2 separate regions of the Homo sapiens genome follow, and region 1 is linked to region 2. Evidence: fine-mapped expression QTL. A gene starts in region 2. The other region holds a variant in brackets. All regions are shown on one strand. Distances are from middle to middle. Region 1 holds the start of THSD7B (thrombospondin type 1 domain containing 7B). Region 2 holds the start of DARS1-AS1 (DARS1 antisense RNA 1).

Region 1 (5,375 bases), 780 kb after region 2:
CCTAGATTCAAAAACCAGGAGACCAAACACAAACAATGCCTCAGAGGAGAAAAGTTGTGTCTTAAGAATCAAAGTATTCTTGGGTATCGTAAGTGATTGCTGACGTAGAGCAAAGGGTTAATGAGAATGGGCTGGCATATTAAATCAGAATGCACGTTGAAAGCAAATTGCCAGCCTAAAGGAAAATATACGTATCATTGTCTCTGGTGAGGGAGGGGGACAAATAACTACTAAGATGTCCATACATGCCATACTCAGAAGTCATCCTTGATATCTTTTTTTCCAGACAGATTGCAAACACAAGTCTTTCTCCCATATGGGGGTGTGTGTGCAGGGGGTGTGGCCTGAAAATGCAGCATTGATTCTGGGAAAACTGAAACCTGGGAAGCCTGGGTATAATAGTTCAAGAAAACAGAAATGTTTTTCTTTGGCTGTTGTTCCTGAAGTTACTTAAATGAGACTCATTGGCTATTGATCTGTATATATTGAGATTACAATAAAACATAATGGACCAGTTTCTCTCTCCCCTGGGTCACAGGATTGGCCTTTTATCTCTTGAGAGTAATAAATCATGGTCTTGGATTTAAGAAAATATTCTGGGATCTGGTTGGCAGCTGATTTATTTTTAAGACAGTGATGTCAGGAAAAAAAAAAAGCATAACCCAGAATGTGACTGTAGTGGGAGAATAGCGATTGCTGTTTAAAATATTAAGTAAGGCTTCCCTGCTTTCAGAACCCATCATCCCACAGCAAGCTGAGTTGAAGCCCCTTACCAATATATTCACATCTTTCTTTACAATGGCACTTACATTCTTTTGATTTCTTTTTATCTGTGACAGATCCTAGCTTCTCTATTTATCTCTTGAATCTAATTTGCTCTATGACATCAAGCTTTAATTTTATCATTATTATTTTGCTTCATTTTAAGCACCCATGGTGTGCCAGGCATTGGATAAAATAGAAAAGATACAATCCCTGCTGTCGCTGGGCTCACACATTTAAAGAGATTTGACAGGCAAAATATCCTGTAATTGGCAATAGGTAGTCCTCATGCTTCCCCCCGCCCCTTCTCCCTTTTGAAGCAACTTCATCTCTCTGAACAAGCTTAAGAAGTTCCCTAGATCAAAGGTGTCAAAAACCAGAAGGGTTTGGAACAAGTGTCAGAGAGTAAGCAAACGACTTTCTGAGCTGTGACTCTGCTCCTCGACTGCCCACGTGCTCTCCGCTGTCTGCACTCCTGCCTCACCTGGGCTGACTCGGACTCTCCACCTCCTTTGCTGCTTCCGGCATGAGCTACCCAGGAGCCTAAGGCGCTCCTTCCCGCAACTCCGGTCCCCGCGCCCCGGGACTGCAAATCCTTTAAACAGAGGCCCCAGAGCTAGGGGTTTTCCCAGGCTCTGGTGGGCGTGGGCTGACAGTCGCTGGGAGCCCCGCAACAGGGGGGATGTCCAGGCAGGTATGCACCCAGCTCCCGGCGTTTCCCGGAGTCACCACAATGTTTCCCTTTCTCTCTCCCCCACGTATGCTGCTAGGGGTACTCCCCAGATAGGATTTTCTTTGTCTTTTCTCCTAGTAACACCGAAGCCCTCTCGTGCCCGGGGACTGCAGAGGAACGCCAGACCATCCGGACCTTGCGGGATGGCTCGGTGTGTGTGTTTTACTGTGTGTCGGAGTGTCGCGCATGTGTGCGTGTTGGGGCGCGTTATCAACAGGGGCCTAGGGCACCCCCACTCTTTCTTGCTCTCTTCCCCCATCACTTCATGGACCTCCGAGGCGCAAAGCGCTCGACCCTCTCCTGGGCTCAGTGGCTTGGGTACTCCGGGCTGAGCTCAGCTGGGGAGTCCCCTTACCCAGCCCGCACCGGCACCCCGAAGCTTCAAAGTTGCGGCAAACAGTTGCGGGGAGCAGAGGAACTGAGGTCCAGGCCAGCGCGCCCGCGGTCGCTCGCCTTGGGGAGCAGGCTGAGCCGAGGGTCGTGCGGGTGCGCGGCAGAGGCGGTAGGAGGCGGAGGAGAGGGGGGAGAAAGAGGGGGCGGTGGGGAACAGCTGCCGGGGTAGGCGAGGCGCAAGGTGGCTCCCCGCGGCCCCGCGCCCCGCGGCTCTCGGACGCACCAGGCAGCCAATGGCTGCGCAGAGGTGTACAGCAGATGGCGTCTGACTGCGCCGTTCCTTCCTCCTCCTCCTCCTCCTCCTTCTCTTCCTCCTCCTCCTTCTCTTCCTCCTCCTCCTCCTTCAGTGCTGAGGAGCCAGAGTCGCCGCCGGGTTGCCAGACGCTGGAATGGGTGGTCTTCCGACACACACCACCATCTTTCTTGCGCTCGGGAAGCTCGGGGCTCAGCGGCTCCCAGAGGTTACGGCGGCGGCTCTGGCGAGACGGGTGAGTGCAAGCACGCGGAGCCCCGAGTCGGGGATGCCGGGCCCCCTGGCCGGCCGACTGGGGCGCGGGGTGGCAGCGCCGGGGAAGGGGGCGCGCTGCCGGCGCAGACTTTGCTCTTTCCTCGCCGGACAGCCATCGTCGCCCCTTCTCCCAGCCAGACGCGGGAACTTGGAAGCGGATCTTCTCGGACGCCTCTGGCTTGGGGCTGCGGGAAGCGTGGGCTGCCCGGGGCGCAGTGTGCGGAGACCCTCTAGGCGGGCGGGGACGCCCCACGCGGCGACCTGAGCACCGACCTCATGCAACGGGACCGAACCTTGGGACCCGGGCAGCAGGAGCTCTGTTCCCTTCACCTCCAGCTTGGTTTGAGGGATACTGATGAAGGAAACCGGGGGTTTCCCGTCCTGCGCGGAGAGCCTCGGCGCCCAAAATCGAAAGGCCGGGAGTTGTTCTGCAGGCTTTGCAAACAGGTTGACTGAGGGTTTCCTTTCCCGTAGCGCTGACTGCGAAATCTGTGCATAGGCGTTCAGTGCCAGTGGAGGATAGCTGAGCAAGCCAAGAAGTTTTGCAGCTTCCTCTGATTTATCGGTGGAGTGTCAGGAGGCTGTAGCAACAGTTTACATTTCCCCTGTCCCTGCGAGTGGCTAGGGGCAAGCTGGGCTCGGACGTGATATCCTGCTGTTTGTGGAGAGGAAACTGGGAACGGGGCTTGAGAGTGAGGGGCAGGGAGGGGGGGACAGGCATATTTTCTACTGCATCGCCCATCTGCACCTGTCCCCTTTGCTGTCTTACATGTCCCA[T/C]AGTATTAAAGTTATTTGAATAAGCAAATGAACCCCGCTCTTTGGTGACCGCGTATTTTGAAGTTGGAAAACTTTGCAGGGGACGAGGGAATGTTGAGGAGGGGGCGTTAAGCTCTCTCACTCTATCCCTTTTTAAAGACAAGAAAAAAACTTTCGTTGGCGAAGGTGGTACTTTTTTCTTTTGGAATGTCTGAGCTCAGAGCTTCCCATAAGAGGTATTGCGATTCAATACTGTACAGTCAAGGTGAAGTTCCACTAAGATTATGGGACCGTGGCATATTCTACGGAAGATACCAGGGTTCCTTGGCGCTCTGTTCATTGCCAGGGTGGTCTGCTGAAAGCCGGCAGTTTCCCACCCTCAGACTCCTTGGAGCTCTTTAAATGACGGTCTGCCTGGTGTTTCTCAGCGGTACACCTGTGAGTGCTCTGTTATCATGGAAATGGTAACCCATGCAGGTAGGGCTCATGCCAACCAGACTGTGGTGGGGTGTGTGTGTGTTTGTGTGTGTGTGTATACATGCGCGTGCGTGTGAACGTGTGTGTTTGGAGTTTCCTTTTGACAGGTAATCTTTGGATGTCAAAGGGATACAGTTATTTGTCTGGCAGTGTCAGGGCAATCTGAGTTTCTCGAGTAACTAGGAGGAGGTAATCTCCAGGGAAGCCTTTTTGTGCTCTTGACTGTCTACTCAGCAGTTGGTGAAGGCTTCCTGAAAGCCACTTAGGGTGTTACTAACCAAATCAAGAAGTCTTACTCAGTGGTGAGTGAAAGCTCGTGTCTTTGTGGGTTAAAAGCTGTTTATAAAGTTTCTGTCTTGAGGCTTCACTTTGACAGACTGCTGTTTTTAAACCTTAGTGCCATTAATAATAGGAGTCTTCTTTTGAAAAGTAATGTGGCCAGTTCTCTGTTTTCTGAGGGTAGTTGATCTAATCTGGTAGATTCCCTGGAATTGTTTTATTTTCTATCCCTGGGAAGTGTGTGTGTGTGTGTGTGTGTGTTGTGTGTATTTGTGTGTGTGTGTTTTCTTCATCTACCTGCTGAGAGTTGAGGGTTAGAAACTCTTTTTCATGCAAATTTAAGTGAAAAAAATTATGAAGAAAATTCTTCTGACACTGTAACAATATACACAGATACTTCTGAAAAAATTGTAGGTGTCATTGTTGACTTTAAAAACATCGGATAGTCTCGTATAAATCAGCACAGACAGATCCAGCAGCCCTGAACACCTACAAACCATTCAGGGTTTTGGATATTCTAGATTAATCTGTGATAAGGGCTTGGAGATACGTGGTCCAGGAAAGGGCTGTCTACTGTTGGTGGACTTTGATAGTCTGTTTTGAGGGTTCATAATACGATGAGCTCACTTTATGTCAACCTTAATATTTAAATCAATACTTGAGAAATGATCTTACAATATTTCTTAATCTTCTGGCCCATTGTTTTCCATCAAAGTTGTTGATTGTTAGAGAGTTGAAAGGCTAAGAAAGAGGAACACTGTTAGACAGGTAGAAAATAATTACCGATCATATAAACAATGTAAATACAGACTCTACTGTTTGAAGACTGACATTAACAAATTGGTAACGAGAGGTACCTTTCTGTTCTCTGCTGAGTGTGCCTTTTGAGAGAAAGTAGGGAAGGAATGAAAGGAAAATGGTACTAAATTGTACTTCATCAGAAGGGCTATGAAGGACCTTGTCTGCTTGCTACAGATCCTATTTCTGAAGGAATAACTCTTTTGTTAATATCAGCAAAAAGAATGTTGTCCTTAAATGATAGACCGAAAAAGCAGAATAAAAAGATAGGCTCTAAGTTAAAGGAGGGAGAATGTCCAAACAAGAACAATTCTAAAGCATGTCAACTCACTTTAATTATACTTCACAAATTGAAACTGGAGTTGTATGATTCCTTTAAAGAAAAAAAGTCTTGCCAAAACTTCAATTCTGCTGTTCTGCACACTTTACAAAGATTAGGCATTAAAGTAATAACATTATGTCAAAAGTTTGAATAGAATGATGAAGAATATTTGACTGGTCTTATTTAGTTAACTGTGAAAATGACAAATGATACAATATATTAAATACATGATTAAGACAAACAGATTAAAGAATTCTAAGTAGTGACAACTATATTAGTTGATGGGAAAAAAAGAATAGCACTATTAAGGCTTCAGAGATGCTCTACAGACAAAGCATAAAGGCTGG
Region 2 (5,321 bases):
CTGACAATGTTTACACAGGGTTATGACATCTACTTGGATTATTAATGTCATTTAAGCTTTTCAGAATTATACCTTCAGATTTATGCCAACCTTACTTAAAATTTCATTTAGAGCTTTCCTGGAATTAGAAAGCAAAAAAGCTTTATTTACTGTCACATAGCTACTAACCTGGTTTTTCTTGTGATTGTATCATTGAAGATATTCCATATCTCTCTTTAGCATAATCCTACAAAAAAAGTTTTTTGCATCGTGACTTTTTATGTAAACACTAAGAGCACAGTAAACACATAAATACTAATAATAGAATATAAAAATGAATTTAACTTTCAGGATCATTTTATTAATTCAGAAAGTCAGTAGTTTCATAATGTGGAAATCTCTCATTCATTTACATATGTACTCTACAGAAAACAGAAAAGTACTGTTTCTGGTTAGTTTGTTTTGAAGATCACCACTCCTAGATGGATTTACCATACTTAATAACATTCTCAGATAAAATTTACACATATGTACAACACATCTTAACTACCTTCTTCAAAAAGATGAAACTACTTCAAAGCAGGGACATAAATTTCCTCTGTGAAGGGAGTAGGATGAAGTACCACAGTTTTATTAACTTCCTATTACAGGAAGAAATGTTCAAAGAGAACCAACGTTTTGGGTAAGCTTTCTGAGCACCAGATGTCCACAGTTTTTAGAAACTGGAGATGCTGGGTATAAGCTAACTACAACTTTCCTTTTGTAAAACATCATCAAAAAATTCACCAGCTTCCTGTTTCTAAAAACCAGATTCAGGATACCAGGTTACAGGAGTTTGACACTGACAATATAATAATATCAAATTTCTTGTTACAGATTAGAGTTAGGAACAGGAAACAGAAGACCTAGGGTCCAATCTGTTAACAAAATATACTTATTAAATAGATAAGTGGCCTTTATTTCAATCTTACTTTACCTCTAAAATGATCTAAGATTCTTCTAGCTATAAAATGGCATAACTCTGCCACAATGTCTACCTTGTATCTAGACCTATACTATCTGTAAGGGTACACTGATAGTTTATGTAATTAAGCAGATTAAGAGTACACAAAAATAATTGCCCTAGTTTTTACAAGGTAACTTAAGATCTGTATGAAACAATTAAGTTTCTGTCACTTTACAGCTACCTGTTGGAATCCTCTCCTTTAGAGCAGGAGGGTGCTGGATTTTGTGTTTACACCAAAATAAAACCAGACATGTTTAAGGCGCTTACTGAACAATTTAAAGAAAAAGATAACCCTGGCCAGAGTAGAGAGATACAGTCACACAATGAAGCCTGAGGGCAACAGAAGGAGATTAAATTGTGTGAAGGACAAAAAAGTTGCATTCATAATTAGTACTATTAATATTTCAGTGACTCTTCCTCATTTAGTATTCTAAGATGACCTTACTTCTCATGTTGCTTACCACAAACTCAGAACTCCTTATAGAAAAATTAGGGAGCCAGACGGAAATTAAGGCTTAACAGTACTACAGCACACATAACTTGTAGGATGGTTTCAAACTTTGATTTCTGAAAAGCACCGAAGGATCACTGGGTGTTATGAATTATCCACGTGATTTGGGGTCACTTCACCTCAAATGCATTCTCGGTAACTCCTATTACCTACCTTACCGGGTCACTGAGAGGGAGAAAGTAAATAAAAATGACATGTGTTCTTTAAAGCTGTCACATGGGAAATGGTCATTAAACATATTGGCAGATGGTTTTGCTAAGTACTGTCATTACTTGCTAAAGCATTAGGAACACGAGGGCTGAGTACATATCGATTACTAGTGCTTATTAAAATTTTCCCAGGGATTGTGCATTACGTGCAGGACGTGCCTAACCCAGAGAGACTCAAGTGTGACGCCGCGCTCCTACTTCCGGGGCGGCTGGTTCTTCCCGTCCTCCCCACCCCGGGGACACGCTTCTAGTAGGCCAAACTCCCAGGTGACCCCCGCAAGAAACGCGGTCCGGAGAGGGTCTGGCCCCACTGCTGGGGCAAGGGCTCTAGGCGCCCGGACCCCACGCCCGCAGCCTGCGGAGAACGTGCCGACAAGGACCTGTAGGGCCCCACTCCCCCTCCTCCCTCCCTCGGCGCAGCCCGGCCCAGGGGTCTGTCCTCCCAGGCCCAGGAAAGGAGGAAACCCACTTCCGCCGCGTCCATGATCTCCCGCGGCTTCTCCTGACTCTTGCGGCTGGCGCTGGCGCTGGGCATCGGGACACGGAACTGGGCAGTGGACACCACCCTCCCTCGCAGGCTTCCGTAAGGCAGGCCAAAGGGGCTTCTCCCTCCCTCCCAGTCTCCGCCCTCCCGACCCTGGGGTCTCAGCACACGCGCTCGGACTCCGCGTGGAGGTGCGGCTCCAGAAAGATCGCGAGAGCTGCGGCTATCTCGAGATCCCGGAGCGCTGGCGGCCGCGCGCAGGGTCTCCTCCCACTCTTGCCCCGCCCCTCCGGGAGTTTTCCCGGAGTTGGAGGGAATTCCCGGGAATTCGCGGTAGTTTCGCTGGATTGGCTCTGGGGGCGGGGGCAGGGGTTACCAGGTGGCTGGCTGTAGACCTGGGCGAATGCCAGCTCTCTTCAGCTTCGTCCCAACTGCGACTTCTGCTCCATTCTTCTAACAGCCCTTTCAACTCCGCTCGGCTGTAACCGCAGACTCGTCACTAAAACACCCACCTAAGCGCGGGCCTTGGTTTCTCCTCTCTTGGACTTTCCCGCCTTCTCTCTTCCCCTGGGCGACGTAGCTGCTTGGGGACGGAGGAGGCCTCTTCGCAATCCATTGCCCTGCTTGTTGGGACAGAGGAGTGCAGTTGGCTTGCCAAGGCAGCATGGGTTACCAGTCCCTGTGTAAGTGAGGTGTAAATACAGTGGCAACGACAACAAGAAACGCATACAATTGCATTGATTGCCTGGATCTGTTGCAGTGTTAGGGACAGTGCATAGTGTTGGTTGCCCAATGGGCGAATATCCCCAAGTTAGGCTTTTTTAAAAAACTGATTTTTTAAAAAAGCTATCATTCATGAGTTTTGAATCGAAATTGAAAATAATTTGGAGATTTGGTTTAATACTGTTTCCCCTGCCAGAGTTTGCACTCCGTCGTTTCAACTGACTTGGTAGTGTCTTAGTCTGGCACAAAGTGTTAAGGGGTGCACATAGATCCCAGCGCAAGTGAAAGGCTCTCTCTGGAGGCTCCCCCATGGAGTAGTGAGAAGACAGCCATGGTCCTTGCTTGCCTGTAGCTTTCCTTCTAATTGCAGGTGGTATGAAATTTTATTCCCTATTTAATTGATCAAAGATTATTTACAAACATCTACTTTGTGCCAGGCATTCTATCAGGTGCTGGCAATAAAAAGATAAGTCCTAGTTCCTGTTCTTAATATTACACAGGTACCTAGGCTGATAGATGCGCCATCTTGATACATGCTTCCATTATTACAGAGTCAGGAAGAGAATTTAGCTCTTAAAATGGCTGCCTGGAAGTGACACATTTCACATTCTCCTAGTTTATTGGCGAGAACAAGTCACATCGTCATTCCTGAGTTCATGGGGGCAGGAGAATTTACTCATTCCTTGGGGAGCAACACTGAATATTCATGATCAGTATCACATTCCGTTAAAAAAGGCATCCCATTATACTCATGGGATTCGAATACAGAAGGGGGTCTGTGAAGTTGCTTCATCTTGGAATTTTTTTTAAAACTTGGATTGCCTCAATCAGGTATAGTCCTAATGTATGGACTGGTTATCAGAAATCTGAATACAAATCCCATCTATTATCCCTTTGCTAGGGTAGCGATCTTACCTTTCCATCTGTCCATGAGGCCTGTCCATGTACTTCTTTCTTACTTTGGCCCCGTTGCCTTGATAAAAGTATTCTTATTTAGTCCTGGAATAAGACTGTAAATATATATTCTTGTTTCTGGCCTCCTTTCCTGATAGTGATAGAAAAGAAGCATTTGCCAGATCAGTGGCCACATGTCATATGCCTGAGGTCTTAAGAATCTGCTGTAGTAAAGATACCACAGCTGCAACTGAGGCTGTGACTTGGTTGAACTTGCAGTAGTCTACTGTCAAGTTCCTGAATTTGTCTGGTTTTTGCTGGAGCCACACCGGTGACAATAGGAATGTGATGGAGACTACCAACCATTACGTCTTTAAGGGTTGCACTGATCTCCACTATTCCCCTTGGGGACATGTTATTGTTTATGATTTCCTATCCTAGTTGGGGGCTGGGAAAGTGACTTTTAGAGATTTCCTCTTAGCTTTATCCGGTATGGTAGCCTATTCCACAGACCAAAGAATAGGGGAACAGCTCTGCTATGGTGCTCTGGCTGCTTTGCAGGATCCACATAAGCCATGTAGGCAAGGGCGGGAACTGCAGCTAACCTGAATCTTGGAAAAACATCTTGTGATCCTGCTGGAACATGAGAGGGTGGAAGGCCATCTCCCACTCACTTCCCTGTCTCCCTGAGAGGCTGTTATGGGATGGTTTCTTACTACCTCCTAGATTCTGATGAGGTGTGGGACTTCTTGCCCCCTTCCCTCAAGGGAAATGCAGAATACAAAAATGTATATAATATCTTACTGCTTAACTGGAGTCTAGAAGTGGCTGTTAAGCAACAGAGTGTCCCACTACTCATGTTGCAGTCATTTGGTGCCTTTTGTTTCAGTGATGTCCTTAATGGGACAAGAATCACAGGGAGCTGGCAACTTTGGCTTATTCTTCTTTCTCTCTCTCTTTTTTTTAATTTAATTTTTTTTTTTTTTGAGACAGAGTGTCCCTTTGTCTCCCAGGCTGGTGTGAAGTGTCATGATCTTGGCTCACTGCAACCTCCACCTCCCAAGTTCAAGTGATTCTCCTGCCTCAGCCTCCCGAGTAGCTGGGATTACAGGTGCCCGCCACCATGCCTGGCTAATTTTTGTATTTTTAGTAGGCATGGTTTCACCATGTTGGCCAGGCTGGTCTCAAACTCCTGACCTCAGGTGATCCGCCTGCCTTAGCCTCTCAAAGTGCTGGGATTACAGTAGTGAACCACCGCACCTGGCCTTTTTTTTTTTTTTTTTTTGAGGCAGGGTCCCACTCCGTTGCCCAGGTTGGAATGCAGTGGTGCGATCAAGGCTCATTGCAGCCCCGACCTCCCGGGCTCAAGGGGTCCTCCCACCTCAGCCTTTGGAGTAGCTGAGACTACGGGTGTGCACCACCATGCTCAGCTAATTTTTGTATTTTTTGTAGAGATGGGGATTCACCATGTTGTCCAGGCTGGGGGCTTATTCTTGTTTTCACTGTCTATGTAAG

What was found. PIP is the estimated chance that this variant, and not a neighbour inherited with it, causes the effect.
Region 1: its variant is fine-mapped to the expression of DARS1-AS1 in thyroid (GTEx, PIP 0.93).

Annotation. Positions count from the first base shown.
Region 1 is chr2:136,763,312-136,768,686 of GRCh38, forward strand. THSD7B (thrombospondin type 1 domain containing 7B) reads left to right here and starts at 2,234. Exons shown (of 28, transcript NM_001316349.2): 1 at 2,234-2,376. RefSeq lists an enhancer at 2,216-2,717. The variant T/C (reference allele first, on the strand shown) is at 3,174.
Region 2 is chr2:135,983,229-135,988,549 of GRCh38, forward strand. It overlaps DARS1-AS1 (DARS1 antisense RNA 1), which reads left to right and starts at 1,948. Exons shown (of 4, transcript NR_110199.1): 1 at 1,948-2,288. It overlaps DARS1 (aspartyl-tRNA synthetase 1), which reads right to left and starts at 2,398. Exons shown (of 16, transcript NM_001349.4): 1 at 2,175-2,398; 2 at 169-226. The coding sequence starts at 2,240. RefSeq lists a silencer at 2,035-2,094 and an enhancer at 2,145-2,244.